Linked DNA regions of Homo sapiens: region 1 is linked to region 2. The links come from fine-mapping of genetic effects on gene expression. Tissue or cell type: monocytes. Region 2 holds a variant in brackets; the other region holds the start of a gene. All regions are shown on one strand. Distances are from middle to middle.

Region 1 (15,548 bases), 30 kb after region 2:
CAGATGTCACCAGTCTTTTTTTTTTTTTTTTTTGCATGTGTTTCTTAACAGCTGGTAAGAATATCAGCTGAAATTATTCGCCACAAGCACACACTTTCTGTTTGTCTCCAGATAAAGGGATTTAAAATCCCGTTTGTCAGTGAGGGAAGGTGGAAACTGTGGAATGGATTTTTCTGGACCAAAAGGTAGGTGATTCCCCCCTTCCGTGCTGCCCAGCCACAGCCCAGAGAGACAGAAAGGTGGAGACTCACGGCAGGGCCGCACGCAGGGCTGTGTTGTCCGCTTCCTGGGACGGTACCCTGCGTCCAGCACACTCACGGCCAGGGCCGCACGCAGGCCTGTGTTGTCCGCTTCCTGGGACGGTCCCCTGCGTCCAGCACACTCACGGCCAGGGCCGCACGCAGGCCTGTGTTGTCCGCTTCCTGGGACGGTCCCCTGCGTCCAGCACACTCACGGCCAGGGCCGCACGCAGGCCTGTGTTGTCCGCTTCCTGGGACGGTCCCCTGCGTCCAGCACACTCACGGCCAGGGCCGCACGCAGGCCTGTGTTGTCCGCTTCCTGGGACGGTCCCCTGCGTCCAGCACACTCACGGCCAGGGCCGCACACAGGCCTGTGTTGTCCGCTTCCTGGGACGGTCCCCTGCGTCCAGCACACTCACGGCCAGGGCCACACGCAGGCCTGTGTTGTCCGCTTCCTGGGACGGTCCCCTGCGTCCAGCACACTCACGGCCAGGGCCACACGCAGGCCTGTGTTGTCCGCTTCCTGGGACGGTCCCCTGCGTCCAGCACACTCACGGCCAGGGCCGCACACAGGCCTGTGTTGTCCGCTTCCTGGGACGGTCCCCTGCGTCCAGCACACTCACGGCCAGGGCCGCACGCAGGCCTGTGTTGTCCGCTTCCTGGGACGGTCCCCTGCGTCCAGCACACTCACGGCCAGGGCCGCACGCAGGCCTGTGTTGTCCGCTTCCTGGGACGGTCCCCTGCGTCCAGCACACTCACGGCCAGGGCCGCACGCAGGCCTGTGTTGTCCGCTTCCTGGGACGGTCCCCTGCGTCCAGCACACTCACGGCCAGGGCCGCACGCAGGGCTGTGTTGTCCGCTTCCTGGGACGGTCCCCTGCGTCCAGCACACTCACGGCCAGGGCCGCACGCAGGGCTGTGTTGTCCGCTTCCTGGGACGGTCCCCTGCGTCCAGCACACTCAAGGCCAGGGCCGCACGCAGGCCTGTGTTGTCTGCTTCCTGGGACGGTCCTGTCTGGGAAACCCGGACAGTCGTTCCTGTCTCTTCAGTCTTGGTTTTCTGTTAGTATGACACCAATCTCCTACGTTGAGTTGCCTCCTGTAATTCCCTGCAGGATCTGTAATCACATGGCGTCTGGTTTGGGTGCCGGCCACACGTCCGCTCACACGTGCTGTCTCCGACTCCCCCCAGCCCCATGTGCAGCTCCCTCATGGCATCTTTTTGGGAGGGCCATTTTCCACGTCATTTATACCATCTGGGTGCTTTGAACCCAAAAAGTTCTCAGAAAAAGCTCACTGAAAAAAAAATGTATAACAGACGTGCCTTTGAAAAATTCATTTGATTGATGGTAGTAAAAGGCTCTGTAGTGGGCTGAGAGGTGTTCCTCCAAAATCCACGTCCCCCCAGAGCCTCGTGATGTGAGCTTGTGTGGAAACAGGTCTCTGCAGATAGTTGAGAGTGGAGATGAGGTTGAGCTGGATGAGGGTCAGCCTGGAATCCAGTGACTGGTGTTCTTATAAGGACACGAGACACAGAGGCAGGGCAAGAAGGCTGTGGAAGAGGGAGGCAGAGATCAAGGTGATGCACCCACAAGACAAGGGCACCAGGATCTCACAGCACTCAAAGCTGGGAGAGGCCTGGAGTCTCCCTGACAGCCACAGAGGAGCCAGCCCCGCCCACACCTGCATCCAGGAATTCTGATCTCTAGGACTGTGAGAAAACGAATTTCAGTTGCATAGAGGAGGTAATTTGCCATGGCAGCCCCCGGGAACTCACTCGGTGTACAAGGAGGAGGAAAGTGCCCGCTACTCCTAAGATAGAGCAGCCACACCCGAGGTAAAGGGGCACCCCATACCCGGAACAGCCCCCACTGCCCCACGGTGACCATCAGTCCTTGTCACTGAATGGATTCAGAACTCAACAACCTCACCACCCGCTAAGGAAGCCCCGTGGGAGGATGGGTCACTGTCTCCTAGGTGTGAGCCCGCACCTCACCCGTTGCCTGCAGCCCTCCCGGGAGGAAGGGTGACATCTGGGGTGCCAGGGCCCTCGGCCTGTGGGGCAAATGCTGGGCGGAGTGGGCTGACTGAGGCAGGAAATGTGAGCAGCTATCCAGAGAAGTCGGCCCCCAAAGCGTGAGTCTACTAGCAGCCTGAGAGCTGGCTACTGGCAGTCACTGGACAATTCCCACTTTACTTTGACCTGATAAATGGCAGGAAAAGTGCCCACCAGGAAGCCTGGGAACTCAGCAGGTGGTTGTGACGACAAGGCTCAGAGACCAGGTCACACTGGCTGGGGCCACTTTCTACGAAAAAGGCAGGCCACGAAATCCCTCCCTAAAACCCAGTCAGTGTGGACAACGGGATTCTACCTAATGCCTTGGGGACATCAGAGGTAAGTGTGCTCTTGTTTCTTAGGTGACATTCTTTTTTAATCTAAAAATATCTGTTGCCACCATTTAACGGTATGGCCCTAAGCAGCTTTCATTCCCACAGATTCAACACATTGTGAGCAAATAGCACCCGTTACTACAAATGCCTGTGAGGGAGAAAAGCCTACAGCCTTCCCCACAGAAGCATGTGTGACGCGGGGTGGGGACCCTGTACCTGCTCATATGTATGGAGAAAGTGGGGACATCTGTAATCCTCCACCTCAGGAACTAGCTGACTTGACTTGGACCCAGCTTTTCAGGAGGCACAAAACACAAATGAGAATCAAGTACGAAGCCCTTAGTGTTCCGGTCGTTCCAAGTCTAAGAGCTGTTGTGGGCGCCACAGAGCCTGCTGCTACTAGCGATCCCAGTTTGGCAAACACCGGGGCCTCACTTTGTCTCTTGTGTGGGGAATGCACACACCTCACATCTGTCTCACGGACCATAAACGCTCTCCCGAGAATCATGTTGACTCTGCTCACCGAGCCCAGGCCCAGCACAAAGACACACCATAAACACCTGCGGAGGGAGCGTGGCCCAGCCCAGGGACTCTGGGGCTCCCAGAAGACAGGGCCCTCCCCCAGCCATGCCGGGAATGCTGCGTGACAGCGGATCAGGAAATGGGGCAGAAGCCCATGAAACCCTCGGAGTCAGGTCACCAGGGCGGGTGCTCGCCCACCCCCAACGCCTGAGGGTGACATTTGACAGTTTACACACAGTCTCTGAGCGCCTGTTTTAGCCTAGGTTTGTAAAGGAGTCAAGAATTCATCTCAGAAAGCTGCCAGTAGACAACCAAATGCTATTTCAAAGCAACTGCAGGGGTTAGTAATTGAGATTTTTTTTATCCCTCTAACTTGCTACTTCCCTAGTTCTGTGGCAGGCCTCTTGACTCAGCTTATAAATACTAAAACTGTTGCTGTAATAAGAAAAAACAAGAAACATTCCTTGAATATTTCAGAGCAAAATGCTTGTGAAAGCCCTTGGTTTCCCCACAGAAAATGTATTTAAAAGAAGAAGAGCCGTGAATCGGTGGCAGCTGCTCCCAGCACCTGTTCCCCGTTCCCATCATTGAAGTTCTCGTGGCATTTTGGAAAGAACTGAGCAGTTTTCCTAGAGAAATACTCTGGGTTCTCGATTACACAGTTGACTGCACTCAACTGTTGGCTGAGACAAAGGGGCCTGAGAGGTGTATCCGTGCACAGAGCTCCGCACCCTGAAACCGCTCAGGGCATGGACCGCGGTGACGTGCCGCCTCCCTCCCAGTGCCCACTGAAGCGTCCTGCTCCCTTCTTCGCACAGATGGCAGTGTGGGGCCAGGGGACGTGTGGCATCATTTGCCCATGCCATTTTCACTTTGTTTTTTTTGTTTGTTTTTGTTTTTTTGAGACAGTCTCACCCTGTCACTCAGGTTGGAATGCAGTGGCACAATCTCAGCTCACTGCAACCTCTGCCTCCCAGGTTCAAGCAATTCTCCTGCCTCAGCCTCCCGAGTAGCTGGGATTACAGGTGCACACCACCATGCCTGGCTATTTTTATTTTATTTTATTATTATTATTATTTTTGAAATGGAGTCTCACTCTGTCACCCAGGCTGGAGTACAGTGGCATGATCTCAGCTCACTGCAACCTCTGCCTCCCGGGTTCAAGCAATTCTCCTGCCTCAGTCTCCCGAGTAGCTGGGACTACAGGCACACACCACCACACCCAGCTAATTTTTGTATTTTTAGTAGAAACAGTGTTTCACCATGTTGACCAGGCTGGTCTCAAACTCCTGACCTCAAGTGATCTACCCACCTCGGCCTCCCAAAGTGCTGGGATTACAGGCGTGAGCCACCACGCCCGGCCACCTTCTTCACTTTCATAGAATGTCTGGACTAAGTCTTCAAGGCACAAGGGCATCAAGCTCTAATGAGCACACGGGGGCACCACTGCAGATGGCCAGGGGGCAGGCGGAGGCCACCATGCACCCTCCCTCTTCATCGGCTCGCAGCCCCTCCTGGGGAGCTCTCGCTGCCATCACAAGCTGAGAGGCTTACAAGACACACATTCATCCCCTCACGGTTCTGCAGGTCAGGAGCCTGACAAGGGTCCCACTGGGGTAAAAAACCAAGGCTTGGCCAGCCTGGCTCCTTCCGGAGACTCCGAGAGAACCTCTTCATGTCTCTTCCCGTTTCCAGAGGCCACACATTCCTGGGCTCCTGGCCCCTTCCCTGTCTCTGAGCCACACTGCATCTCCAGCCTCGCTGACCCACCCCTGCCGCTGCCGAATTCCTCCCTCTGTCCCCTGTACAGACCCTGTTCTTCCACTGGGCTCCCCTGGGGAATCCAGGCTAATCCACATCTCAGGGCCTGGGGCTTAATCCACAACGTGCTGTTGGCTCTGGGGTCGGGAGGTTGGGGAGGCCGTGCCCGGGGGCCTTTCTTCTGTATTCCACACCATTGATCCACATCATGTTCAAATGATCTCCTAAATGGAATGGCTTCCTATCAACCCACGTCACTGGCTTCACCCCACTGTTACCAGGAGCTGGTTCTTGTTGGGCTCTGGAGGCCAAGAAGGGGCTCCTTCCCTCTGCCCATCAGCAGGTTGCTTGGCACGGTAGGGTGGGTGCCCCCGTGAGACACAGCTTGGGAGCACGAAGCGGCCGCAGGCCCTGGGCCCGGGCTACGGGCTGGGGAGGAGGGAGGATGAGGCGTGCAGACACTGAAAGGGCGGCTGCAGAGACTTTTTTGTCCAGAAGTAACCCAGAGCGAGCAAGTCCCTGTGGGTGAGGACCACGCATGCCCGGTTGGCGCTGATGTGTGGGAAAACGACAAATGGTGCAAGCCACACGGGTCACGTGCGTCTCCTGTGCTAATCGTGGATTTTCATTTCCTCCGGAGACCCAAATGAGAAAGTAAAAGTGTATGCAGGAGTCAAACCCACTTTCTAGAATGTGGTTAATTTCTAGAGGCAGCTGGGTTTCCTGTGGAGAAGACAGGTTTGCCTACGCAGCGTAGAGAGGAGACGGCTGTGTGGGCTCCAGCCCCAGGGGAAGTAGGGCCCGGGGGTCACCGCGAGGAAGCTCCATCGGCCGCGGCGGCTCTGTGGAATCTGAAGCGCGTGGTCTCACGGCCACCTCCCCCTGCACCAGCCGTGTGGCCCAAGGTGATGTCTGTGTGCCTTGGTTTCCTGATGCGTAGAACGTAGCCAGCTGGAGGACAGGGGGGCTGTCGGGTTCTTTGTGTGGAGGTCTCCAGAAGGCTGTTCGTGCTGTAGGCAAATTCCACAAGACCTAGGAGCCAGGACCCCAGGTGCCTTGATGCTGGAGGGAAGAACCTGGCTGAGACGCACCTGCAACTGTTTGGAGCTGGTGACCTTGGGCCCAGCACACCCTCGCTGCTGGTGGACACAGCCCCTCACAAGCAGCTGCGAGGCCCTCGGGCAGTGGCATGGGCGCCGTCGCTTCCTGCTAACCCCACATCCTCATTTCCCACGCTTCTCCTTCCACCTTCCATGATCACTGGGACCTACTGCCTCAGGAACCGCCTCAGAGGGACAGAGGGAAGCAGACCACCCTTTTCTTCAGAGAGTTCATGGCCCAGGGAGGGAACGCTGGCTGGGGACGATCACAAAGCCTCTCTGGTGCCCGGCCAGCGACAGGGACCCTCGGGGCTGCGGGGGGAGAGGACGCCCCTGCCCTGGCCGCACAGGGTTGGGTTAGAGGTGAGCTGGGGCCGGAGAAGCCACGGGAGCCATGTGGCGCCTTCTCAGGAGGTGCTCCCGCAGCTTCGCCTCCTCTCGTCTTCCGTGCGCAGGGAGGGACCAGCCCAGTGACAGCTGGGAGCAAAACTGGTCACCTCCCCTCGGGCTCTGGGCAACTGTCAACCTGCAGCTTTGAGTCTCTCCCCCTGGAATCTTCTATCTGGGGTATGATAATGTTATTACATACGTTGGTTATTTACAGCACAACATGAAAAGGCAATTTGTAAGGACTGGTCCGTCTAATCGGGGCGAATCACCAGTCTTCTGAGGCATCGTATTGAGTTTAGTTTCCGACTGATTGCTAAATGCCTTCACGCTGCGTGGATATTGCCCAGCTCTGCCTCCCTTGCTGCAGGTGCCCTGTGGATGCTGAGCTTCCACGGAGGGGCTGCTGCCCCCTCTGCCCCCACAGCTCAGCTCGAGTTCACCAGTGGGGAAGGCCGAGGGCCTGTGGAACGAGGGCTCCGTTCCCCCACCGCAAGGAGTGAACGGCACCGAGGTTCCCGCCGCCGAGCCGCAGCGCTGTGCAAGCCCCCGATGGGCGACGGACACCAGGCCCCAGCCCAACGCGCTTCCTTTGGCTCCTCCTGAACTGGGGGGGGGGCCTCGCACCCGCCTTGCCAGGGCCCTGGCATCTGTCTCACTGGCCTTTCTCACCTGGTATTCCAGTGAGGAGGGTGCTTCAGTTTTACTCCCTTTGAGAGGCAAGATCTTCTCAACCCACAAGAAGAGGCGACCAGGTCCTGGGTGACTGTCGAATAAGCCTGGTCCAACTGGGAACAAGTCTTCTGGGCCCTAATTTCCCACATGGTGTTCTTGTCTGACAAAATCACAGCCTTCCACGTTCAAGAATCTTCATTCATCTCTCTCTTTCAGCGAATGTTCCCTAAGCTCTCCCATCACTGAGCACTGCTGCCAACAGCCCAGCTGCATGCTACCACTTTGGTTTGATGGAGAGAAGGGCTCAGAACCTCGTGCAAGTGGGAGGCAAGCACAAGTACAAAGGCATCTTCCGGAGCCAAGGTGGGGGCGCAGAGGGCCTGTCTCAGTGAGATCCCACTGTCTTCCAGGGTTTGCCACCGCAGCAGTAAGCCCTGGAGTGGCCCCACACCCTAAGATCCACGGGGGAAAAGGTGGATGTCTCAGCATGGGTTTGTAACATTGTTCTCTTAAATAAGCAGAGGATGCAGAATTAGGAGCAAGCATTCCGAGGGGTGGCCAGCTGTGGCTTCCGAGGGGCACCTGACCTCCCATCTGCCTTCTGAGCACCAGCTGCCCCAGGTGAGGTGTGTGGAGTTCCACAGCTACGATGAGCCGTCGCCATGGAGAACAGCAGCTCACGATTGCTTTGATTTAAATTGAATTAAGGTGAAAATGAATCAGGGCATAACTCTCTTCTTTCAGCCAGACGTCTTTCTGAACCGGTGTATATATGACTTAAAAAAGTCACGAGGGTTTTGGGCCCAGGGATCAGGCAGGAAGGAAAGGCAGTGCCGTGCAAGGAGGGGTGGGTTAGAAATTGTATCCAGAACCGCTGTGGCTTGTACTGAAGGAAGAAACTTCGTAGTTCTGCTTCTATTTCTACCACAACACCAAGGAAGGTGTGTGGGGTGGGGAGCAGGTACACACAGGTCCTTGGTATTACCAGTGGTCCAGGATTGTATAATTCCGCTTATTCTACCCATCCCACAGCCTGACCCTGACTCAAGTCCTGCAGCCCCTTGGTGCCCTGAGCCCCCTCCCCTGCCTGTTCCTAAGCAATCAATCACCCTAAGACCCCGTTCTAGGTTTCAGCAGATGATGACGAGTTAATCAGACAAATAAGCCATGGGGTAGGCAGGGGTTGTGGGTGCTGCTTCCTGGTCCCTCTGGCAAACCAGAAGGGAGCTGCCTCCCTGCGGTCCCCACCCTGTCTCCAAGCTTCCCAGCAGAGCCCCACATCCAGCAACTGGGCCCAGCTTTAACCAGACGGAGGAGCAGCCTGACGTCCTGCCAGCCCCAGAGACAGATGTGGGCACAGGAAGGGAAGGCAGGGAGGAGAGGAAGCCAATAAAAAGTGTTAGCATCCGTCAGGGTGACCCTTTGCAGAACCTGCGTCAGCCTGAGGACGCAGGGAAAGGCTGCGCGGGAGAAGCCGCTGTTAGCATCTGCCAGGGTGACCCTTTACAGAAACTGCGTCAGCCTGAGGACGCAGGGACAGGCTGTGCGGAGAAGCCGCTGTTAGCATCCGTCAGGGTGACCCTTTACAGAAACTGCGTCAGCCTGAGGACGCAGGGACAGGCTGTGCGGAGAAGCCGCTGGCCTTTGCCGCTTGAAAGCTGGGTCCCTGCGGCCTCCTCACCCCAGGGCTCCCTCAGAGAAATTCTCATAGAACCCCTAAGCAATACGCGGGGAAAGAACGGATGCCACCCGGAAGCATGCCGAGGAAGAGTCCATTCATGGGAACTTCCAGAGCCGGTCACAGAGGCCAGATCCACGATCAGGTGCATGGCAGGGGCTTGTCCGCAGGACCGGAACCTTGGTGAGCATCAGCGATGGGCACTGTGTTTCCCCAAGAGTGACCTGGGGTGCCTTCAGGCCAGGCGCAGCTTCTACTCCTCATTTATCTCCACCACGCAGAGCAACGTGCGGCACAGACGAAGCACTCAGGGAACATTTAAATGAGTCCGTGGGATGCACCTAAAAGAAATAGAGGTTTCCAAAGAATAAGCAGGTACAAGTTAGACCCCACAAAAAAGATAGGCAGGCAGGCATTTGTTAAGTCCATTTCATTTCACCCTAGGGTTTTAACATCAAAGTATCCCTGTAATGAAGAGGCATTTTGTTACCCAAATTCTCATGTTCTTCAAGAGGGAGTAGAAAGGAAAAAAAGATGAAAAGGGAGAAACAGTACAGCCCCTACCTTCAAACTTACTACCCCCACCATACACACACACAGACACACACACAGTAAATGACATGGATATTTATCCAGTCTGCCATAAGACACCTGGCCCCACCTTATAAATGAGGGAAGCCTGGGCCAGCACAGTGGCTCTCAACTATAAGCTCAGTCTTTGGGTGGTCAAGATGGGAGGCTCACTTGAGCCCAGGAGTTTGAGACTAGCCTGGGCAACATGGCAAAACCCCATCTCTCCAAAAAATACAAAAATTAGCTGGGCATGGTGGTGGCACATTCCTGTGGTTTCAGCTACTCAGGAGGTTGAGGTGGGAGGATCCCTTGAGTCTAGGAGTTCAAGGCTGCAGTGAGCTGAGATTGTGCCACTGCACCCCAGCCTGAGCAAAAGGAGTAAGACCCTGTCTCGAAAAAAAAAGAGGGAAGCTCGGTGCTGGGTATGTCAGAGATGGAAAGACTCTTTCCAGTCTTTATGTCTCATTGGACAACGTGAAGATTCAACTTCCAGGGCTGCTCAGTAGAGCCAAGTCTGGAAAACAAGCTCGTGGGCACCACATCACAAGCACGTTTTCCCTGGAGCCCGCGTTGTCACTACTGTATTCCCAACTCCACTCCGAGGGCCTTTCAGGGTGGAGGAGAGAGCTGTGGCCAAAGGCAGTGAGAGGCAGAACCCCCAGCCCAAAAGCCAGATTTCAGCCTCAGGGACGAGCCAGGGCTCACCACCCCCGCGACACCGCAGGCCTCTGTGCGGAGACTGTGCTCAGGCCCAGCGCTTGCGCTGGAGAAAAGGCGGAGACATTCAGAACCCAGGGGATTCCAGGCTGCCTTCTCCACAAGGGTCAGGTTTGTGGAGGAGAAAGGGGAAGATTCTCCACCCACCAGGCGCCTCCTGGACTGTCAAGAACTAACAGGGACTAGATCACCCGAAATAGCAGATCAAATTGAAACAGCATACTTAGCTTTTGGAACGAACCACGAAGCAGGCAGGAGGACCGGAGATTGCAACATACTGACCTTCCGAGTCCTGTTTGGGTCAGTTTGTTAAAATTAGTTTGTCCTCCCTGGAGACACGGCCAACGCAGCCTTTTCCGTGGCAGGAGTCCAAACACAGTCTCTGCTGCTCTCCACGCACGGCAATGGGAAGGCAGCCCTTTCCCCTCCATCACTCCGGGGAGCTCACGTGCGGACGGGGTCCTCTGTAGCATCTTTAAATTGGAGGTGACTTTGTACCGTTGGAGCCGGGGGCAGAGTCAGCAGTGACCTCAACAGTTAGGACCAGGATAAGTTCCTTCTGCTGAAAGAGGACGTTAAGATGAGAAGGGCTTGGCCGGGCGCGGTGTTTCACGCCTGCAATCGCAGCACTTTGGGAGGCCGAGACCATCCTGGCTAACACGGTGAAACCCAGTCTCTACTAAAAATACAAAAAATTAGCGGGGTGTGGTGGCGGGCGCCTGTGGTCCCAGCTGCTCGGGAGGCTGAGGCAGGAGAATGGCGTGAACCCGGGACGCGGAGCTTGCAGTGAGTCGAGATCGCGCCCCTGCACTCCAGCCTGGGCGACAGAGCGAGACTCCGTCTCAAAAAAAGAAAAAAAGAAATGCTTTTAGCGCACTTAGAGCATTTAGAGCAATGGGATGATTAATTCCATTTTCCATTTCGGGCCTCATCTCAAGTATTTTTATTTCTTTCTCTTCCTCACCTTCCTGCCACCATTTGTGGTGGCAAATGTGACATTTCACATTTACACCATTGTCCAGTTTCTCTAACAGCTTGACTTTCTGTGCTATAAACATAAACACTTCCCCTTTATCCCCTTTAACAAACTGCTGTCTCTCTAGGGGTATCTGCAGGCCTCTTTGACATTTTCAACATTAACTTTAAGCTACTGAGCAAAAAATGAGCAAAAAACCCAGTCAGGGCTAGAGTGTAATCATGACGAATAAACTGGGGGTTTCATGATATTTCTGACACCTGTTTGACTACAGAGACACTGAACTGTCCTCTGCCAGGTCCAGCCTGGGCTCTAGAGCCTGCGTCTGAGGCCCCTGCCCCACTCGTTGGGAGCAGCTCCAGGGCTCCCCCACCTCCCTTCCCTCTCCTGTTTCAAAAGTATTGACTTTGAGGATCAGAAATGGTCCTAACTGTTGCTTTTTCATTTTAACTAAAACTCTCAAATTTAGAGTGTTTTTCCCTTTTCAATACACCTTTTTAATATTGCTTTTTTTTTTTTTTTTAAGATGAAGTCTTGCTCTGTCCCCCAGGCTGGAGTGCAGTGGCGCAATCACAGCTCACTGAAGCCTCGGCCTCCTGGGCTCAAGCCGTCCTCCTGCCTCAGCCTCCTGAGTAGTTGGGACCACAGGTGCCACCAGCACACTCAGCTAATTCTTTTAAAATTTTTTTGTAGAGACAAGATCTAACTCTGTTGCTTATTGCATTTTTTTATTTCAAATGTTTATACCAAATTTTTTTCTAAGCTTCTAAGAAAGAGCTGAAATTCACAAAATCCAATTCATACTAATTCTAGAAGAAACAATACTTGCCCTTCTGCAGGTGAGCAATTCCTATTGTAAGCGTCTGACACCAGACGCCCTTCCCCCCTTCTTCCTTCCTTCCTCTCTCCCCCCACAGGTCAGGGTGGGACAGCGCAAGAGAGAAAGTTGGAGACACCACGAATCCCGTCACAAACACTCTTAGGCCACTTCCATAAAAGTGTAAGAGGTTCTAGGCATCAGGCTAAAGTACTGCTGTTGAGGTCCATAATGTCTACACCAGGGTGCCACTTGGGGGTTTGGCAAGGCAGGCTGAGGAGCAGGAAGTAGCAGATTCTGATCCTGTCTCTGAAAAGTGATTTTATTTGTTGAATATCCCAGCACTGAGCTGTGAATTAAGATTCACTAAAGGAATCAAGGTTCTTGTAAAATATCCAGGACCACAAAGCAGAGATATTTTTCCTTATGGTTCAATAATTTTAAAGTTCAAATTAACTTAAAACAGTAACATGCTTTTCGTGAATGGTGCTTTGACCATGGGTTTAGACACCGAGGAAGCAGAGGAAGTTGGTGCACAGGAAACAGCCTGGGAGGCCCTTGGCAGCTGAGGCACACGTCTGCACCTCTTGCCATGGAAGGTTGGCTTGTCTTCTAAAAATCGTATCCGAGGAAGATTCTACCACTTCCTCGATAAACCACTGACAGCCTTGAAGTTTTCTTCATGCCTCGATCCAACGAGAATGCCCTGTCCTGCAATTTTAGATGATTTCCTCTTACACTGACCTTATTTTCTTTGAGAACGTAATTAATGACATGAGTCTTGTCATTTTTCTTTTCTGTGCTTTAAAAAAAACAAAAGGTTCTGATGCTCATGTTGCAATACATTTTAAAATGCTGCTTCATTCTGCCTTCCTCAGGTACCTCACTCCGGATTCTATTAAAATCGTAATCTCTAGAAGATGGATTCAGCAAATGCCAGGCGTGGAGCCATGAATGTTTCCATAAGAAACAAGAAAAATAGAAAGAATGTGTGTTAGCCAGACGACACCTTGATGGCACCCCTGCCACCTCCCCAGCCCTCCTCAGTGGCAAAGTGATTTAGCTCAGTTGGGCTTCTCCAAAATGGAAATAGTCACTTGTTTGAGCAAATAAATGTAATGAAAGTTGTTCCGGAAAAATTCTAGTACTCTGCACTAATACATATCATCTTAAAAACTTATCTCTGAATTGTTTCCAAATGACAAATGTGTAAAGTTTCTAAGTACTTTTTGTTTCCTTATCCTTGTAGTGGAAGATACTACATTCAACACAGACGTACTGTGTGCCTCCTGCGTGTGAGGCCTGGTGCTCATGGCGCGTGTCCTTGCATGCAAAATTCTACTCTTCATCTTGACGTTTCTAGACATTCAGCTGTTCCTCAGGAAACGATTTACCTTCCCTCTGCCTTTTCTGTAAAATGCATGGACTGAGGAATTACTAATGCATAACACTTTGTTTGCTGGATACCAAGTAGACGCACTCTTACCATATACAGGGCTGTATCTAGGCAGCCAGTTATTAGAATAAAAACAGAATACTATGTTCATCCGCTCAGATAATCCCTGTGTTTGGCTTCATGTTATGGTTCGAAACTCCTAGTGACATTGGTAAGAGTGAACACGAGAATGAAGCTTCTTTCATGATGAAATGTCCTGAGTGTGTGTCTGTGTGTTCTCAAATTATAGCTCACATGGATAGAGAACGTTTTCTTGCTTCAGCCTCAAGTGGGGATTGGGTTGCAGTGGTGAACCAGGGCCAACACAGCCCGCCCTCTTTGAGGTTGCAGTCTCCTGGGACACACGCCCACTAAACAAACAGCTACACGAATTAATCATGCCACAGGGCAAACTGCAAGAGCACCATCACGTGCGGCAGGTAACCCAGGCGGGTCATTTTCGTGGCGGAAGAAGGTCACACTGGAAGTCACCAGACAGATGGAAGATCCCACTCAAAGTCGCAGAGTGGGGGCGGATGGAGAACCAGGCTGCCAGGGCGCTGGCTGGAGCCGAGCGGTAACAGACCCGTGGGAGAATAACGAAACGAGGCTCCAAGACAGGCGGGAGCCGGATGGTGCATGACCTGAGAGGCCAAGTCAAGGATTTTGAACTCCACGCTAAGAGCAGCCGGAAGCCGTTCGCTGGCGCCAGCTGAGCACATGCGCAGAACCGTGCCCTGAAAGGCACCGTCCCCTGCAGACGGGAGGAGGTGCTCCCAGCACTGCTGCAGACGCTGCCGTTTCCCTTTCAAGGACTCAGCAGAGTGGGCAATCACCTAGGCGCGCCACCAGCGAGCCTGAGACTCTGCTACCAGCGTCCTTGACCGGACTCCCGCTCTCCACCCAGTTTAATTGGCTTGCTTTTGGCCTTGTAAGATTTCTCATCTGCGATGTGCGTATGCAACCACAGCAAGCCTCCCTCAGATGCATTCTGCTGTGGGTCACGTCACAGACACGGCGGTCCATACACACCCGGAAACTGTCGTGTTTGCGTGTGCGTGTATTCACTGTATGGTCCGGCTTAATGCTTTTGCTTATGGGAAGTTTCAAACGTGTACGAAAGAGGAAAGAACACGGAAGTGAGCGCCCCCATGGGCCACTCCCAGCTGCAGCGACCCCCAGCAGTGCTCGTGGGACTCCCCGTGCCACCGTGCCCGCGGCGGGGGGCTCCGAATCAGTCCCAGGCCTCGTATTGTTTCATCCATAAATATTTCAGAATTTTCTCTAAAAGATAAGGTCTCTTTTTAAACTGAACAGTAATAACACATCACATCTAAACTATTTAGCAGGTGCACTTTAAAATCATGTGGATATCCCAGTCAGCGCTTACATGTCTCCAGTGGGTTCATAAAATTTTTAAACTGTTTGAAACAGGAACCAGATCCAGACGCTGCGATGGATTGATATGTCCGTGTCTCTTTGTATCTATGGGTTCCCCCTCACCATTTTCTTGTTTTTTCCTTGCAATTTATTTGGCTACAGAGTTCCCTGGATTCGGCTGCGCAGATGCGTGGGGCGTCGAGGAAGGAGTTTTCAGTCCCGTGTTTCCGTAACTGGTAATGAGACTGAGAGCTGTCATCGGATTCAAGCTCAATGTTCTTAGCAAAACACTTCTCCTCTTTGCTGGTGTTGCTGGCCTGGCATTTAACGTGCCCTTAATGCAAGGAGGAAATGCAAGCGGAGTCGGGTCTGAGGGGAGTGAGCGCCAGTGCCTCCGCGCAGCTCCTGCTACATCGGTCGCCCTCTTTCCATCCTGGGAACCGCTCAGCGCTTTGAGGTACGCGCAAGTTAAAAATGCAATCACTACCATAAGGAACCCGGGCTTAGCGGGGGGCAAAGCGGCAAATGAGGGGTCAGCCCACAGGGAGCCCGTGCGGTCCTGCTGAGCCAGCAGGCGGGACGCGCTTAGAGACGGGGCTGCCCACCGACGGGAAGCGGAGGAGCAGCTTCCGTGACTCCCACGCCCCGTCTGGGGCCATGTTGGCGTCAAACGGCGACAAAATCATGACAGCTGTGACCCACTGGGTACAAAATAACTCACAAGTCTACACTGACATGAATGAATGAATGAATGAATGAATGAATGAATGAATGAGGAACGCTCATTCTTTCTGCGGAAAGAACTAATAAATGCATGGGGGGATGGAATTAGAAAATCGCGGCTGCTTCATGCGCGTGCCTGCTCTTACCAAGTCACCTCATGATGGCCAGCAAGCAG
Region 2 (15,548 bases):
ACATCCCCCAAAGACCCCGGCGTCCCAAAGATTCTCGAGGCCACAGGAAAGCCTGCACCCCACACTCTTCCTGGGTGCAGAGCTGCTGATCCAAATATGTGCACACACTCCTTTCCCATCTACTCAACACGGTACATGGAAAACACACAACAAATCCAAAAGTAAGAGGAACGAAGATTTGGAAAGTGGCTTTCAGATATCAACTGAGCAGGAACAGCAGAGCTGGCCAGCATCTGAAACTAGCTTGTATGCCTTAGAAATTCACCCCTCCCTGCAGAGTAAACACTGTCTCAACACAGAACCTGTGCTTTGGAAGCAAGATGTGGTGAACATGGGGGAGTTTCCGTTTAAACGACTGAGTCTCCCTCACTGCAAAGGACAATGTCGCTGGATCCCACGTGTTAAACGACTGCGTCTCCCTCACTGCAAAGGACAGTGTCGCTGGATCCCACGTGTTAAACGACTGCGTCTCCCTCACTGCAAAGGACAGTGTCGCTTGATCCCACGTGTTAAACGACTGCGTCTCCCTCACTGCGAAGGACAGTGTCGCTTGATCCCACGTGTTAAACGACTGCGTCTCCCTCACTGCGAAGGACAATGTCGCTTGATCCCACGTGTTAAACGACTGCGTCTCCCTCACTGCGAAGGACAGTGTCGCTTGATCCCACGTGTTAAACGACTGCGTCTCCCTCACTGCGAAGGACAGTGTCGCTTGATCCCACGTGTTAAACGACTGCGTCTCCCTCACTGCAAAGGACAGTGTCGCCGGATCCCACGTGTTAAACAACTGCGTCTCCCTCACTGCAAAGGACAGTGTCGCCGGATCCCACGTGTTAAACGACTGCGTCTCCCTCACTGCAAAGGACAATGTCGCTTGATCCCACGTGTTAAACGACTGCGTCTCCCTCACTGCAAAGGACAGTGTCGCTTGATCCCACGTGTTAAACGACTGCGTCTCCCTCACTGCAAAGGACAGTGTCGCTTGATCCCACGTGTTAAACGACTGCGTCTCCCTCACTGCAAAGGACAGTGTCGCCGGATCCCACGTGTTAAACGACTGCGTCTCCCTCACTGCAAAGGACAGTGTCGCTGGATCCCACGTGTTAAACGACTGCGTCTCCCTCACTGCAAAGGACAGTGTCGCTTGATCCCACGTGTTAAACGACTGCGTCTCCCTCACTGCGAAGGACAGTGTCGCTTGATCCCACGTGTTAAACAACTGCGTCTCCCTCACTGCAAAGGACAGTGTCGCCGGATCCCACGTGTTAAACAACTGTGTCTCCCTCACTGCAAAGGACAGTGTCGCTGGATCCCACGTGTTAAACGACTGCGTCTCCCTCACTGCAAAGGACAATGTCGCTTGATCCCACGTGTTAAACGACTGCGTCTCCCTCACTGCAAAGGACAGTGTCGCTTGATCCCACGTGTTAAACGACTGCGTCTCCCTCACTGCAAAGGACAGTGTCGCTTGATCCCACGTGTTAAACGACTGCGTCTCCCTCACTGCAAAGGACAGTGTCGCCGGATCCCACGTGTTAAACGACTGCGTCTCCCTCACTGCAAAGGACAGTGTCGCTGGATCCCACGTGTTAAACGACTGTGTCTCCCTCACTGCAAAGGACAGTGTCGCTTGATCCCACGTGTTAAACGACTGCGTCTCCCTCACTGCAAAGGACAGTGTCGCTGGATCCCACCTGTGCTCTTAAACGACTGCATCTCCCTCACTGCGAAGGACGGTGTCACTGGATCCCACATGTGCTCTGTGCCTCTCACTGGATCCCACATGTGCTCTGTGCCATCCTCCCAGCCTCCAGGCTTCCAGAAGGGCAGGAGCCCGGTGCTGGGCTGGGCAAAGGAGCACCTGGTCCAATGAGGCTCACAGAAGAAGTAACTCCTGGCGGAGCCTGTCCAGGGAGAAATGCAGCCCAGCAACTCCACAGCTTCCTCAGAAAGGGCCTGTGCAGGGTGATGGAAAGGGCCCAGGAGGGCAGGCTGGAGCCCCAGAGCCGATTTGCACATGGAGGGGCTCGTACAGGGCTGGAGCTCAGGGCAGGAGTCAGGAACTCGCTTGTGTGTTCTTAAAAACAAAACAGCCCCCAGGCTCCAGAAGGGTCCTGACACCCACATCCCAGGGTCTCAAGTCCTCAGTCAGGAGCAGCTGCAAAAAGGGACTGCAACTGCCGTGCTCCATGGAGATGCAGTCAGCCCGGGGTCCCTCCTCAAGGGAGCACTATGCTGCCCGGAGGCAGGTTGGGGGACTGTGGCTTTTCGGCCATCGCAAACAGGAGAGACCCATGGACAGCACACCAGGCCCCGGCTGCCAGGTGCCTTGGGGTCTCTGTACATGCTGGCCCCTCTCCCGAGGAAGGTCTTGCTCCTCGGCCCCGCCTGGTCAGCCACAGTGGGTTCTCCGGGTGTCTGCTCAAATGCTCCTTTCTCAAGGGAAGTGCTCTATGGCCACAGCCCTTGTCAGACTGGGTTCAGGGCCCAAGTACAGCTTCTAGTGACCACGAGCCTGACCCTCTTGGCACTTGGAAAAGCCAAATCCTTGCGGGGGATTGTGCATGTCTCTGCCCCAGCCTCTCCCTGGGGTGAGGCCGTGCTATCTGAGTCCCGGGGCTGACCCAGTGCCTGGCTCACAGGACCCTCTCCACCAACAGCAATGGAGCGAAAAGCCCGATGTCTGGGGGACTCCAGCAGAGCCCCTCGTGACTCTTCCCCCTGCTTCACGGTGATGCCTGCACCAGCCCACAGTGGAAGAGAGAAGCTCCTTGTCAACTTCTGTGTGGCACACCGTTCCAAGGGATGTCGGGGGCCAGACTCCCCCAGGAACAAGAAAGGCAGGTGCAGCGCCACTAATACGGCGTGATCAGTTCAGAGCATCGCTTTCTTCTAAGCTAAAATATCAATGGTTTGGGAGGCTTGAAACGTGTTTTCTAGAGAGCCTGTGAGTATGGCTGTGTGGTTTTATCAGCCTCGACGCCCAGAGTGGCCTTGAAAACTAAACTGGGAGTGAGTGTTGGGGGCGTGCACTGGCCACTGCTCCCAGGCCTCTGAAGTATAAACAATGGGCTCAACTGCAAAGACTCCTGTTAGACATCAGAAGGAACCAAGGCTGCAAAATGCTAGGCATCAGAACAAGAACTCAGTCATAAAAATATATATTTATAACAAAATATAGCTAGAACATAAATGCCCAACAAAAGGGGGCTAGTTAAATAAACTTAGAATCTGTACCAATAGAACATCCTGTAGACACTAACAATTATGCGTAGAAGAAATTTCAAACCACCATCTGCAATTAGGTTGGTTGCTGGCTAGCCTCCACCTCAAATGTCTCTGACTTCTCTGTCTCAGAGCCACGGACTCCTTTGACAAGCCAGTGAAAGAAACTGACCATTTACCTAGAAAAACTCACCAACACCCACCATTTTGCCCAGTTTTAAAAGTCTCACAAAACCAACAAAGCCCACACGGAGACCTCCTACTGGGAATACCACATCTCCAGGGGCCACGCCTCCAGCTTCCACGCCTCCAGTGGCCATCACTGCCTGCTGCCTTGTCCCAGAAACCATGGCAAGAGTGCCCAGGCTTGAGCCCACACGGGTGTCAGTGGGGTGGGTGACACACATCTCTTCAAAAAGCAGCATCCTTGTTCCCTGCATGCTTGCTGAGCTTGACATAAGTGGAGTCCCCCAAACCCAGAACTCAGGTCCCCCACCAGACCTTAGTTTGGAATGACTGAACTACTGATCAGTAGGATACTCCAGCCCCAGAAGAATTAGGAAGGGCTGAGGGGCCTGGGGAGTGGTAGCTCCTTCCTAAGAACTCTCCAGCAGACCCCCATGTCCTGTAATACACAGAGAGGAGAGAAAACACCACTCAACCTGTTGTCCGTGGGGAAAGGGCCCTGTGGTTTCCAAGAGACCGAAGGATTCCAGACCCAGTTAAAACAGCACAATTCTACCTGAACTCAGGGACACAGGGACGCAGGCAAAGTCAACCTGGTTTTCCCAAATCCACCGCAGATCCCATGTAAGAGTAAAATGGGGCCACGCTTTCAGGAAGTAGCTCGTCCCTAAGTATGAAGCATCTGAAGTGGGTTCTAGAATAAGCAGTTCACCAAGAAGAAATGCAAGTGAACCATGAACATATTTTTATAGGTTAGATTCACAAGTAATTAAAATTGTACATGGTACCAAATTTGCAAACTTTTTAGTATCTATATTATTAATGTGATAAATATTATAATAAATACATTTATAAATATTCCATAATATTTAGTATCTGTATTTAGAGTTAGCAAGGACACAAGAAACTGTCATAAACTACACACACACGTTCAGATATTGGGAGGACAATGTAGCGTATAACTGAGAACCTTTCAAAGGTTTGTGCATTTTAACCAGTAATTCTGTTTCCCAAAATTGATCTTAAAGAAATAATTAGAAGTTTATGGAACCATTTTTATACGAGCATATTCATCGCAGCTTTATTTAATAGGAGTAATAAATAGATGCAACAATCATGATCAATGAAAGGGGGTTAAGTAAATTTTAGAATATCTGTATGATTAAACACTTTCTAGACATGATAAAATCATGTTTTAAAGAATATTTAATGACACAGGAAGATGCTCACAACATCGTAGTTAAAGAACTAGTTCCATTGCACGGCAATGAGTGTGCGGCTGGCAGTATCACACCACGCGCATGGGAATTTTGAGGAGAGTGAGTTTAATGCTATGTGGGTTTTTCTCACAATTAAAGGAAAGCTGCTTACAAAACTGAAGGACCCCAGTTTTGAGAAAGATGTATGTAATATAAGCAAAGGGAGGAAAACTTTAAGGATACACATTACATATTAACAGTGGCTCTGTTAGTTTTTTCTTTCTTCTTTCTTTCAGCTAGCTACAATGTCTCTTTATGAACTGAAAGAAAGGGAAATTATTTTGTTTCATATTTCTTTTTTTTTTTTTTTTAGATGGAGTCTGGCTCTGTTGCCCAGGCTGGAGTGCAGTGATATTTTGGCTCACTGCAACCTCTGCCTTCAAGCAATCCTCCTGCCTCAGCCTCCCAAGTAGCTGGGATTACAGGTGTGTGCCGTCACGCCCAGGTAAGTTTTTTTGTTTTTTGTAGAGATGGGGTTTCACTGTGTTGCCAAGGTTGGTCTTGAACTCCTGAGCTCAGGCAGTCCACCTGCCTCAGCCTCCGAAAGTGCTGGGATTACAGGCATGAGCCACCGTGCCTGGCCTTGTTTCCTGTTTCTACATGTGTCCCATTATTCTACTCCTGAAAAGTTAGCCCAAATAAGTTTTTTTAGCTCTAGAAAAAGAAAATATCTTTAAAGCAAGTTTATCCCAGAATTGTCTGTGAAAGCAAAGACTTTTACCATTTCAAATGTTCAAATAAGTATTAAAAAGAAGAAAATGTTAAATAAGAGAATATATCAAGTCAGTGGACTATTATATAGACAAGACAAAGGCAGAGACATGCACACATAATAATGTGAAGCAAACGAATCAAGGTTTAAAGTGAAGCTGTGACCCTAACTCTAAACACAGACAGTGGACGTTACGCATGGGAAAGGGAGGAAGAAATACCGGTCTCAGGCCGGGCGCGGTGGCTCACGCCTGTAACCCCAGCACTTTGGGAGGCCGAGGTGGGCAGATCACGAGGTCAGGAGGTCGAGACCATCCTGGCCAACATGGTGAAACTCCGTCTCTACTAAAAATAAAAATAAAAATAAATAAAAAAATTAGCCGGGCATGGTGGCAGGTGCCTGTAATCCCAGCTACTTGGGAGGCTGAGGCAGGAGAATCGCTTGAACCCGGGAGGCGGAGGTTGCAGTGAGCCGAGATCGCGCCACTGCACTCCAGCCTGGGCAAAAAGAGCAAAACTCTGTCTCAAAAAAAAAAAAAGAAAAGAAAAAAAGAAATACCAGTGACCCTAACTCTAAACACAGACAGCGGACATTACACGTGGGAAAGGAAGGAATACCACATGGCCAGTGCTGCCTATGCTGGCGAGACACAAATGATTTTATTTTTCTACTTCTTTCTTCTCTAGATTTTCTAGAATGAGCAGCAATTACTTTTGAATTGGAACAAATTGTGTTCATAAGCATAAAAATCACATCTAGATTTCTTTCTACCTCAAGGAGAGAAACATTTTATTTAAGGTCAAAGACTTGGAATTCTTCACACTTGCCCCTTGCTATACCATCGCAGACCGTAACGGCCCCAACAGAGACGCTTTGAGTACAGGGTGCCTGAGGCAGGATCCAGGCCTACAGAGGGCTCGACAGGCAAAGCCCCTCACAGCCCACAGGTCTGCCCCAAGACACTCCTCTGTGCGGTCAGGAAGCCATCTCTGAGCCTTGGAAAAGACGCAGGTGTGGCTTAAGGTATTAAAACATAAAC[G/A]TTGTAAGAAATCCTACTATCGTGTTGGCCGTAAATGTGATAACCCTTAAAGAATCTTTGGATTCATTTCTGAAAGCATTTAGAACACAAGTTTTCTTTCTCTCTCTCTCTCTTTTTTTTTTTTTGAGACAGAGTCTTGCTCTATCACCCAGGCTGGAGTGCAATGGCGCAATCTCGGCTCACTGCAACCTCTGCCTCCCGGGTTCATGCCATTCTTCTGCCTCGGCCTGCCCAGTAGCTGGGAATACAGGTGCCCACCACCATGCCTGGCTAATTTTTGTATTTTTAGTAGAGACAGGGTTTCACCGTGTTAGCCAGGATGGTCTCCATCTCCTGACCTAGTGATCTGCCCGCCTCGGCCTCCTAAAGTGCTGGGATTACAGGCGTGAGCCACCGCACCCGACCCCACAGGTTTTATTTTTCATAAGGTAAGCTATTAAGGGATGTCTACACCTACACACACACACACACACACACACACAGCACCTCCAGTCAGCACACAGGAACACAAAGACACACTCACATATATGGACGGCAGACGCCAGTCCCGCCACATGCAAGCACACACCAAATCACATTCTCCCTCCTCACAGAGTCATACTCCTTTCAGTGAAACCAGAACGTCCTCCCGAGAAAGTCTCCAGAGTGGAATTTCCATCCCCAGAGGTCACGGGGAATCAGGTCTCTCCTCTGCCCGCTGACCTTCCACTGAGGAGTCTGCGATTTACAAGAACTTCTTTCTGAACACTCCTGATTACAGACACTCTAAACTGGGTGCCGCCTGAGCTCATAATAAAGAGAGAGTGAGTATTTGTCTTGTAATGAAAACAACTGACCTCGCACAATAGGATGATAGATAATGCATCAAACCAGCATATGAGCCCTTTAGAATCTCACATTTGGAACTGGCCAACATCAATTATTTAAACACAAATTGAATTAACAAAATATTCAACATATGTTCTTTTAAACTCTGCTAAATTGGATGAGACATCTAAAAGCTGATCTGTGGGCTCAGCCTCCTTCGAGAGGGGGGCAGGCAGCGGGGCAGGCGTCGGGGAGGGGCGGAGTGAAGCGCAGGGAGGTGGTCAGCTCCGGGCTGTGCTGGAGGCCTGAGCTCTCCACTCCCAGAGGAAGGGGTGATTAATGCCACCACCAAATGTGCCTGTGCCTAACCCTGACCTCATCCAGCCCTGCTGCCACCATCTGCTGTTTCTAATTCCTCTGCAATATTTGTATTTGCTGCCTCCCTCCGACAAAGAGCGGGGGCGGGGAGCAGTGCTCCCTACTTAGCGACGTGTGATCTGGTTGGCTGGCGGGGCCCGGCCAGAAGCATCTGTTGCTGCAGTCCAGCAGCATCTGCCACTATTTCTCACTTTCCCCAGCATGCTGGGAGATACGGTTTCTCCCAAAGGTGGCCTTTCCATGCACACTGTCAATCCCATCATTGTCCGCCCGCCTGTTCCCACGGTGCCGGCCCCGTTGCCATGCTGCCGGGCCTTTGCTTGCTGGCTGTCTGTAATCCAAGATATTGTGTGACTGAGTTATGCCATTAACCCTCCTCCTATGCATCGGGACATTCAATTAAGCTCAACAGGAGAGGCCGGCTGAGAGGGAGGTCTGTCTGCTGGGGAGGGACGGCCCACTTCTAGGAGCATTTACAACAATAATAATAACTGCGACGACCCGCGGGTACTGTCATAAATAGTGCTGAGGGCCAGGGAGACAGGAACGGTTCTTGGCAGGGCAGCTTTCTCCTCTCTCACTGTTTTTGTTTCTTTAACTTAAAATGCTATAAAAGGATGCATTGTTTTCTCCTGATTCTTGATAAGGCTATTAAGCATTGTGATAAGATGTGTGTGTGAACGCTATTATTTATGTGTCGAGTGTTAAACACCTTCTGCTAATGGGGTGCAGCCTGGCTGTGCATGCACGCAGTGTCCCAAGCTGTCCCTGGGCCTCACCCTTGGTCAAACGCCCAAACATCCAGAGCTGCTGCGGGGACCTTTCCGAGGCGGGAAACTTACTGAGGCAGCGCCTGCACACAGAACTGCAGTTCCCCTGGAAGATGCTCTGAGGCCCAGACGTAGAAGGACAGCAGCCTGTCAACAGCAGGGCCGCCCTTGGCAACTCGGCTCTGTGTCCCCAAAACACTCCCGAGAGCTCAGGGAGGCCCCGGGGATCTCCCCTAATCACTTCCTGAGAGCAAACGGCCTTCCTACGAATGGCCAGGTGTCAGGATGGCCCCACAGCTGCACCATCCTCCTCACGGGCCCCCCACTGTGGCTGGTCCTAGGTGGCTGAGCTGAGGGAGCGCTGTGGTTCGCTGTCCCCGCAGGACACAGGGCCCCGCGAGAGAGGCTTGTGGCCGCCCCAGATGACCTCAGCTCCCTGTCTGTGGCCGCTTTGTCTGTCGACTGCAAGGTCTCCAGGCCACACGACCACTTTGCAGATGATATTTGAGTACAACCAGACTTTTAAAGTAAGTTCGGAGCAGGAAAAGACTTTCTTCAGTTAGAAATTTCAGTGCTGATGAGTAATGCCATATTGAATATTCAGGAATTCTGGATATTCTAAATTTGTAAATAATCAGCAACTTGCTGAGCAGGGGACGTTGACTGAAGGCCAACTGTGCACCTGGCAGAGACACACGAGGAGCTTGTTTTCTCCTCCTGCCAGGCCCTCGCAGGTGATCGGGTCTCCTCACTTTATGGATGAGAGATGCAGCTAGCGACGTCCCGCACCTGACCCTAGACAGCACCAGCTCCTGGGAGAGCTGGGACGGAACCCACGTCGGCCCCAGGCCTTCTCCTCAAAGGCTTTGCTGTCACAAAACGTGGATGAGGAATAAATCCAGGAGAGGCCGGGGGAGAGCACCAAGGTCAGATTGCACCACGGGGTGGGAGAGCGAGGGTGAGCAGCCGTCGCGAGGGCTCTCACGCCAAGCCTGCAAATGCAACCTGAGGGCCTGGGATTTTCCCACATGGCTGAAACGTGAACCCCTTCCCATGGCCCTGGCTGTGCAGTCCTCCTGGTCGGAACATCACACGGCTGTTCTCCAAGAGTGGTTCCTGCAAATGGCCCCCGCTGTGAAGCCCTGGGAAGCCCTGGGACCTCACACCCAAGCGGATGCAAGCAGCGCCTGCCTGGAGCCCTGATGCCCGGCTGCTGGGTGCCCACGGGGGTGAAAGGGAGATGTTTACATGGCAGGCGTGGGCTCCCCTCCCTGGGCGAGAACCGTGGGAAACCAAATTTTATAAGTGTGGTTGTTTGCCTCACAAACCAGCTTCTGTGATCATCCATTATCATGTCATTCATTACACTGCATCCAGTCTTAATCAGAACTTCCTGGCCATGCGGAACACGAAGGTGAGTGCTGGCGCCCTTCTGCAGGCTGCTGTGTCTCCGTCCTGCAGCCGCCCCCAGCACCGGCCCTCACCGCCCCTGCAGCCGCCCCCAGCACCGGCCCTCACCGCCCCTGCAGCCGCCCCCAGCACCGGCCCTCACCGCCCCTGCAGCCGCCCCCAGCACCGGCCCTCACCGCCCCTGCAGCCGCCCCCAGCTCCAGCCCTCACCGCCCCTGCAGCCGCCCCCAGCACCGGCCCTCACCGCCCCTGCAGCCGCCCCCAGCTCCGGCCCTCACCGCCCCTGCAGCCGCCCCCCAGCACCGGCCCTCACCGCCCCTGCAGCCGCCCCCAGCTCCGGCCCTCACCGCCCCTGCAGCCGCCCCCAGCACCGGCCCTCACCGCCCCTGCAGCCGCCCCCCAGCACCGGCCCTCACCGCCCCTGCAGCCGCCCCCAGCTCCAGCCCTCACCGCCCCTGCAGCCGCCCCCCAGCTCCAGCCCTCACCGCCCCTGCAGCCGCCCCCAGCTCCGGCCCTCACCGCCCCTGCAGCCGCCCCCAGCACCGGCCCTCACCGCCCCTGCAGCCGCCCCCCAGCACCGGCCCTCACCGCCCCTGCAGCCGCCCCCAGCTCCAGCCCTCACCGCCCCTGCAGCCGCCCCCCAGCTCCGGCCCTCACCGCCCCTGCAGCCGCCCCCAGCACCCGCACTCACCGCCCCTGCAGCCGCCCCCCAGCACCGGCCCTCACCGCCCCTGCAGCCGCCCCCCAGCACCGGCCCTCACCGCCCCTGCAGCCGCCCCCAGCACCGGCCCTCACCGCCCCTGCAGCCGCCCCCAGCACCGGCCCTCACCGCCCCTGCAGCCGCCCCCAGCTCCGGCCCTCACCGCCCCTGCAGCCGCCCCCCAGCACCGGCACTCACCGCCCCTGCAGCCGCCCCCAGCTCCAGCCCTCCAGGCCCCTGCAGCCGCCCCCAGCTCCAGCCCTCACCGCCCCTGCAGCCGCCCCCAGCTCCAGCCCTCGCCACCCCCAGCAACTGTGCTTATGGCCCCTGTTCTTTCTGTTTGTCACTCTTTCCACACTGAGGTAAAACCTGACGAACAGGAAGGAGTGTAAAAGGAACAGCTTTCAGGGCAGACCTGAGCCACAGAAAAGACACTGTTCAGGGCGATGCCGCCTCCCTGAGCATAAACACGGGCTCTGCCCACGCGGCGCTCGCCGGAACCCCAGGATAACAAAGCTGGAATGACTTCACCCCGGCTCCGACACGGCTCTGCTCTCCGTGTGTGATTGATGACATCAGTCTCAGCACCTCTCCTCACACACTCAGAACACTTTTCCTCAGTTGCCACCAGCATCCACCGAGGTGGGGTCATGAAGGGGACCCAGGGGCCCGGCGGCTGCTCCTTCCCATGCACTGGGCAGCTGCGGCCCATGGGCCCCTCCGCCGGGTGTACCAGGCTCCTGGACAGGAGAGAATGACGCCACGCAGGAGACGAGCTTGCAGAGGCAGGAGGGCAAGGGCAGCAGCAGAGGCAGGAGGGCAAGGGCAGCAGCAGACCCAGGAGGCACCATGAGCTCTTCCCGAGGCACTGCCTCACATGGGCGCCATCCACCCAGCTCAGCTCCCAGGGGCTGGGAAGTTTCCACAGAATATAATGGGGTGGTCTTTTCTAAACTGTAAATCATCGTACAGCCTTAGGGCAGAAATATCAAAGGCAAGGACAAAGGACCAGGATGCCAGACCTCCTGACCCATCACTGGGCCCCTAGAGCCAAGCCCACTCCTGTCCACACCTTCGTCACACGTTTACAGAGTGAACAAGTGAATGAATAATGAGACAGGGAGATGAAGGGGCATCTGGCCCCAATGCCGGTGAAAACCAAGATGCCGGTATATGCAGAGAAGAAAACTGAGATGACGGTGTACACCGAGAAGAAAAACGAGATGACGGTGTACACCAGAAGGAAACCAAGATGAAGTCAAGTCGAGGCCTTCCAACAACGGTCTGTGTGCGGCCCGCGGGGCCAGAGGTCCAGCCAGGGTTTCCGGAGGGCTCCCTGAAGGCTCACAGCTGTGCCTGGCACTGGCCTGCTGCAGACAGCCAGGGTCTTTACAACACGGGGCTGTGTGTGGGAAGGGCTGGATTCCCATGCAGAGGAAAAGCTGTTCACCAGCGTCTGTGGCTCAAAGTTACTGCAACGCAGAGCGGGGAGCGCTGGCCGGTATGAGCGGCTGCATCTCACACCACAGAAACGCACTTGGAGACGTTTCCCAGTGAGCGTCGCCTCTCCTAATGCTGAGCCCTGTGGGAGCAGAAACTGGAGCCGTCTCACTCACTCAGTAACAACTAAGAGCATGATGTGGAAGCCGGCAATTAAACCCCCTCCAGTGGGCCGCAAGGTTCCCCAGCCATACCCCACCATCAGCTCTCAGAGCGACGCGACAGGGAGAGCAGGGTGTGCCCGCATGGTCGGATGGCAGCCTCCGAGGCAGCTGCAGCCTGGTCTCCGGCCACCCTCCTCTGCAGCCCGACCCACACCGTGCGGGAACGGACATCCAGAGAAGCCACCTCATTTCAGCGAGGCTGTCCCCAGAGAATATGGAGACTATGGAGATGCAGTGAGACGTTGTAGAAGAAGGCGGCTGCAGGTCCCTTGTTAGAGCACTTTAGCCTAAAACAACATTAAAGAGTGAGTTGGAAAAGTTGATTTTTCCTGTGAATATTGGTGCATGCTCAGGGACCAGCAGCACAGCTGTCCCAGCGGAAATGGAGGAATGAAGTTTCATTCATAGTCGCACTAGAGGAAAGCCAGCCCAGGACGAAGCTCAGCCCAGGACGGAGAGTCCCGCGGAGTGGGGGGGGTCCGGCTGCCTGCCTTCCCCTCCAGCGGCTGCCCCTCGGTGTGGAGACCCAGCCCCACCCCGGCCCCCAGGCCTTGCCGGAGAGGGGTCTGGCCTGCAGCCCTAGGGGGTCTCACTCCCTCTGGGGTCCGGCTCTCTGGCAGCCTTCCTGACACCTTCACAGCAGCACATGCGGCTCCCACGCTGTCCCCCACCCCGCAGCTCCCCTCATCTTTAACTACACACACGTTCTTCTCCCTTTCCTTCAACTCCCCGGGGGTGGGGCAGCAGTGCTGTGAGGGTCTAAGAGGGGTCTGTGATGACTGAGGGTTTTGTCATATCCCATCCATCCCGTCCTGGCCACCAGCAGCCCCAAGGTTGGGCCGGTGCCCGTGAACATGGCAGGTGAGTGAGATGTGGAAACGGGACAGGCATCCCCCCGCCAGCTGTGGGGTGCGACCCAGGGCTGTGGGCAGAGCGGGAGCCACAGGCTGGGCTGGGCACAGGCCCCACATAGATACAGGATGGATTTCACAGCCCCTCTGCTGCTCCCTTTGTCGTGCTGAAGTGAGGTTGGAGCAAAATCCACACCTGCCCCGTGCATGGGCCTCAAACCCCCTTCTCACTGCGCACTGGGCATTCAACACCCAGGAGCAAGGCCTGGGAGGGAACAAAGTCTACCCTCCCCAGCTCAGAGACACACACTGACCCATGCTCGGGCCGCAGGAAACACAGACCAAACCCAAGATTAAAAACCCAGTACCTACAATCAAATCTCGACCTTTAACGCAAGCTTTGTTTCTCACCTGAAAGATAGAATTTGACCTTAAAATTGGGGGTGATTTCATTCTGGATATGATCAGAGGACTAGTGAGGAAACTGAGGCTGAGGCCATGACATCACATCTTACAGAACCCATGGGAAAGTCCGCACATCTGTGGGGGACGCTTTGTGTGTGTTCCTGGAAAGTTGCAGGACTGTGGTTGGAGGGTGTGGACGCGTGCGTGTCCCACGGCCTGGGCAGGATCTCGCTGTGATGCCGGCCTGGAAAGACACTGGCCGCGGCCGCTGCCCTTCCCATTGGAACCAGACACCAAATGGTGTCTGCTTTGCTCGGTGCCTGTTATTTTGAGGAGTGGCCCTAACAGCTCTCCTGAGGGGTGGCCTTGTTAGCCTGCCTTTCCCAGAGCCCCTCGCTGTGAAGCCACCCCTGTAGCAGCAGCGTGTCTCCGGGAGGACCCAGAGAAGCAACATCACCCATGTGCTGCACGGAACCCTAACCCCCGCATGTCCACCCTCCTGCCTCTGGGCCTGGACACCTCAAGACTCCAGGAAGAAATGTCTAGTCCCTTTGCACCTCCCAGAAGCTGCAGCAGCACCTGCGGAGCAGACACAGACGCAGACGCAGACGCGACTTTCTCTCAAGTCAAGACCACATCAGACCTGAAAATTCAGTCATGCCCTGGCCTGAATGCAGCACCGCGAATGGAGCACTTTAAACTTTCTTAAGAGCTGTGAAAATGTATCTTTTAAAAATATTTTTATTTACTTAACATGTTAACAGTTCCTGCTAGGCACATTTTACCAAAAAAAAAAAAAAAAATACCCACACACACGGTTTGGGGCATCCAAAGGCTCTGGGAGCAGCTGCAGGGCTCACGGGGGGCGACACAGGCCTGTGAGTCAGCTCTTTTACTACGCTTTGTGCTGCCTGTATAAATGACCTAATCTATCCGCCGGGCGTTTCAAGGGGGAAAAGGAAAGGGTTTATGAAACCCAGGTTGAAATGGAGACACCGAGGCACAGTGCCTCTCCGGAACCCAGAGGAGAGTCACGGAGCCCACTGGAGAAGACCTCAGCCGCCATGAGACCCTGTGCATTCATTTCTGTGCATGCTGTTTTTAAATTAGAAAAACTCAAAGCTTCTCCCTGTGACAACAGCCATTCAGGACGAAGCAAGGAGCCATCCTGACACTTCATCAGCTGATTGATTGATAGGCTGGAAAGTCTACGGCGAAAGGGAAAAGAAAAAAGGACACGGGCGTTCACTGACGGGATTCGTGGCTTCCCTCGTGTGGCCACCTCATCCAAACACGGGCCAACGGGAACTTCACAGGAGATCACAAGTAATCCTGCACAGGCAGAAATTCAGATGTGCGGCCTCACCTAATCTGACTGGGATTTGGAAGAGGTAAGATGTTTGTTGAACTGACTCATCGGTGATAGTTCTTTTGTTTCAAATAAAATGGAAGTAAGGCTGACACCCACATGCCCTGTGTTCAGCTTGTGACCTGGAACGGATTGTTCCTGCAGAAGGAGCTGTGTGATCCAAAAGCCCAAGTATTTCTGGAGATTTTCCCCTTGGCTTGCTGCACCATGACCATAAGGTGGACGCCTCTCATCTGGAAACCAGGGTAGTAACATGAAAGGCTAAGATTATCTAGATGTTCCTGGGACAGAACGTGGAGAACGTGGCCCATCTGAGCTGTAGCCCTTTCCAGGGGCGTGAGCTCAGCATCTGCAGAAGACGCCTGTGTCAGAAGGGACCAGTGGCTTTTCCCACCCAACGTCCACGGGGCTCCAGGCCCAGTGGCCCCTGCAATGCCCCTGGGCAGGCACCTGCTTGAGCCCAGGAACATTCCAGGAAGCCCCACAACGGTGGTCCTGCCAACAGACCCCAGCCAGTCATCCTCCCCCACAGGCCGCCTTTTCCTGAGGGAAGCTTCCAGAAGCCAGGGTAGGCTGCAGGCCCAGAAAGCCCACGAAATGCCAGGCAGGCACCAAGGTGTTCCTGTGGCACTGTGTGAGCACCCATCGGCGGCGTGCACGGCCCTCTATGAGCTCACGCGTGTCAGCGTCTGCAAAGCCCATCGGCGGCGTGCACGGCCCTCCATGAGCTCACGTGTGTCAGCGTCTGCAAAGCCCATCGGCGGCGTGCACGG

Evidence for each region. PIP is the estimated chance that this variant, and not a neighbour inherited with it, causes the effect.
Region 1: it holds the start of LINC01624, and the variant in region 2 is fine-mapped to the expression of LINC01624 in monocytes (TOPMed, PIP 0.93).

What each region holds. Positions count from the first base shown.
Region 1 is chr6:170,266,496-170,282,043 of GRCh38, forward strand. LINC01624 (long intergenic non-protein coding RNA 1624) reads left to right here and starts at 5,979. Exons shown (of 2, transcript NR_104177.1): 1 at 5,979-8,935; 2 at 12,714-12,974. LOC285804 (a long non-coding RNA gene) reads right to left here and starts at 10,267. Exons shown (of 3, transcript NR_126021.1): 1 at 10,190-10,267; 2 at 8,836-9,093; 3 at 174-1,790. RefSeq lists enhancers at 125-701, 702-1,278.
Region 2 is chr6:170,236,361-170,251,908 of GRCh38, forward strand. No RefSeq gene overlaps it. Among named protein-coding and RNA genes, the nearest start is that of LINC01624, 28 kb to the right of the region's middle. RefSeq lists enhancers at 8,039-8,804, 8,805-9,570, 15,399-15,548. The variant G/A (reference allele first, on the strand shown) is at 6,422.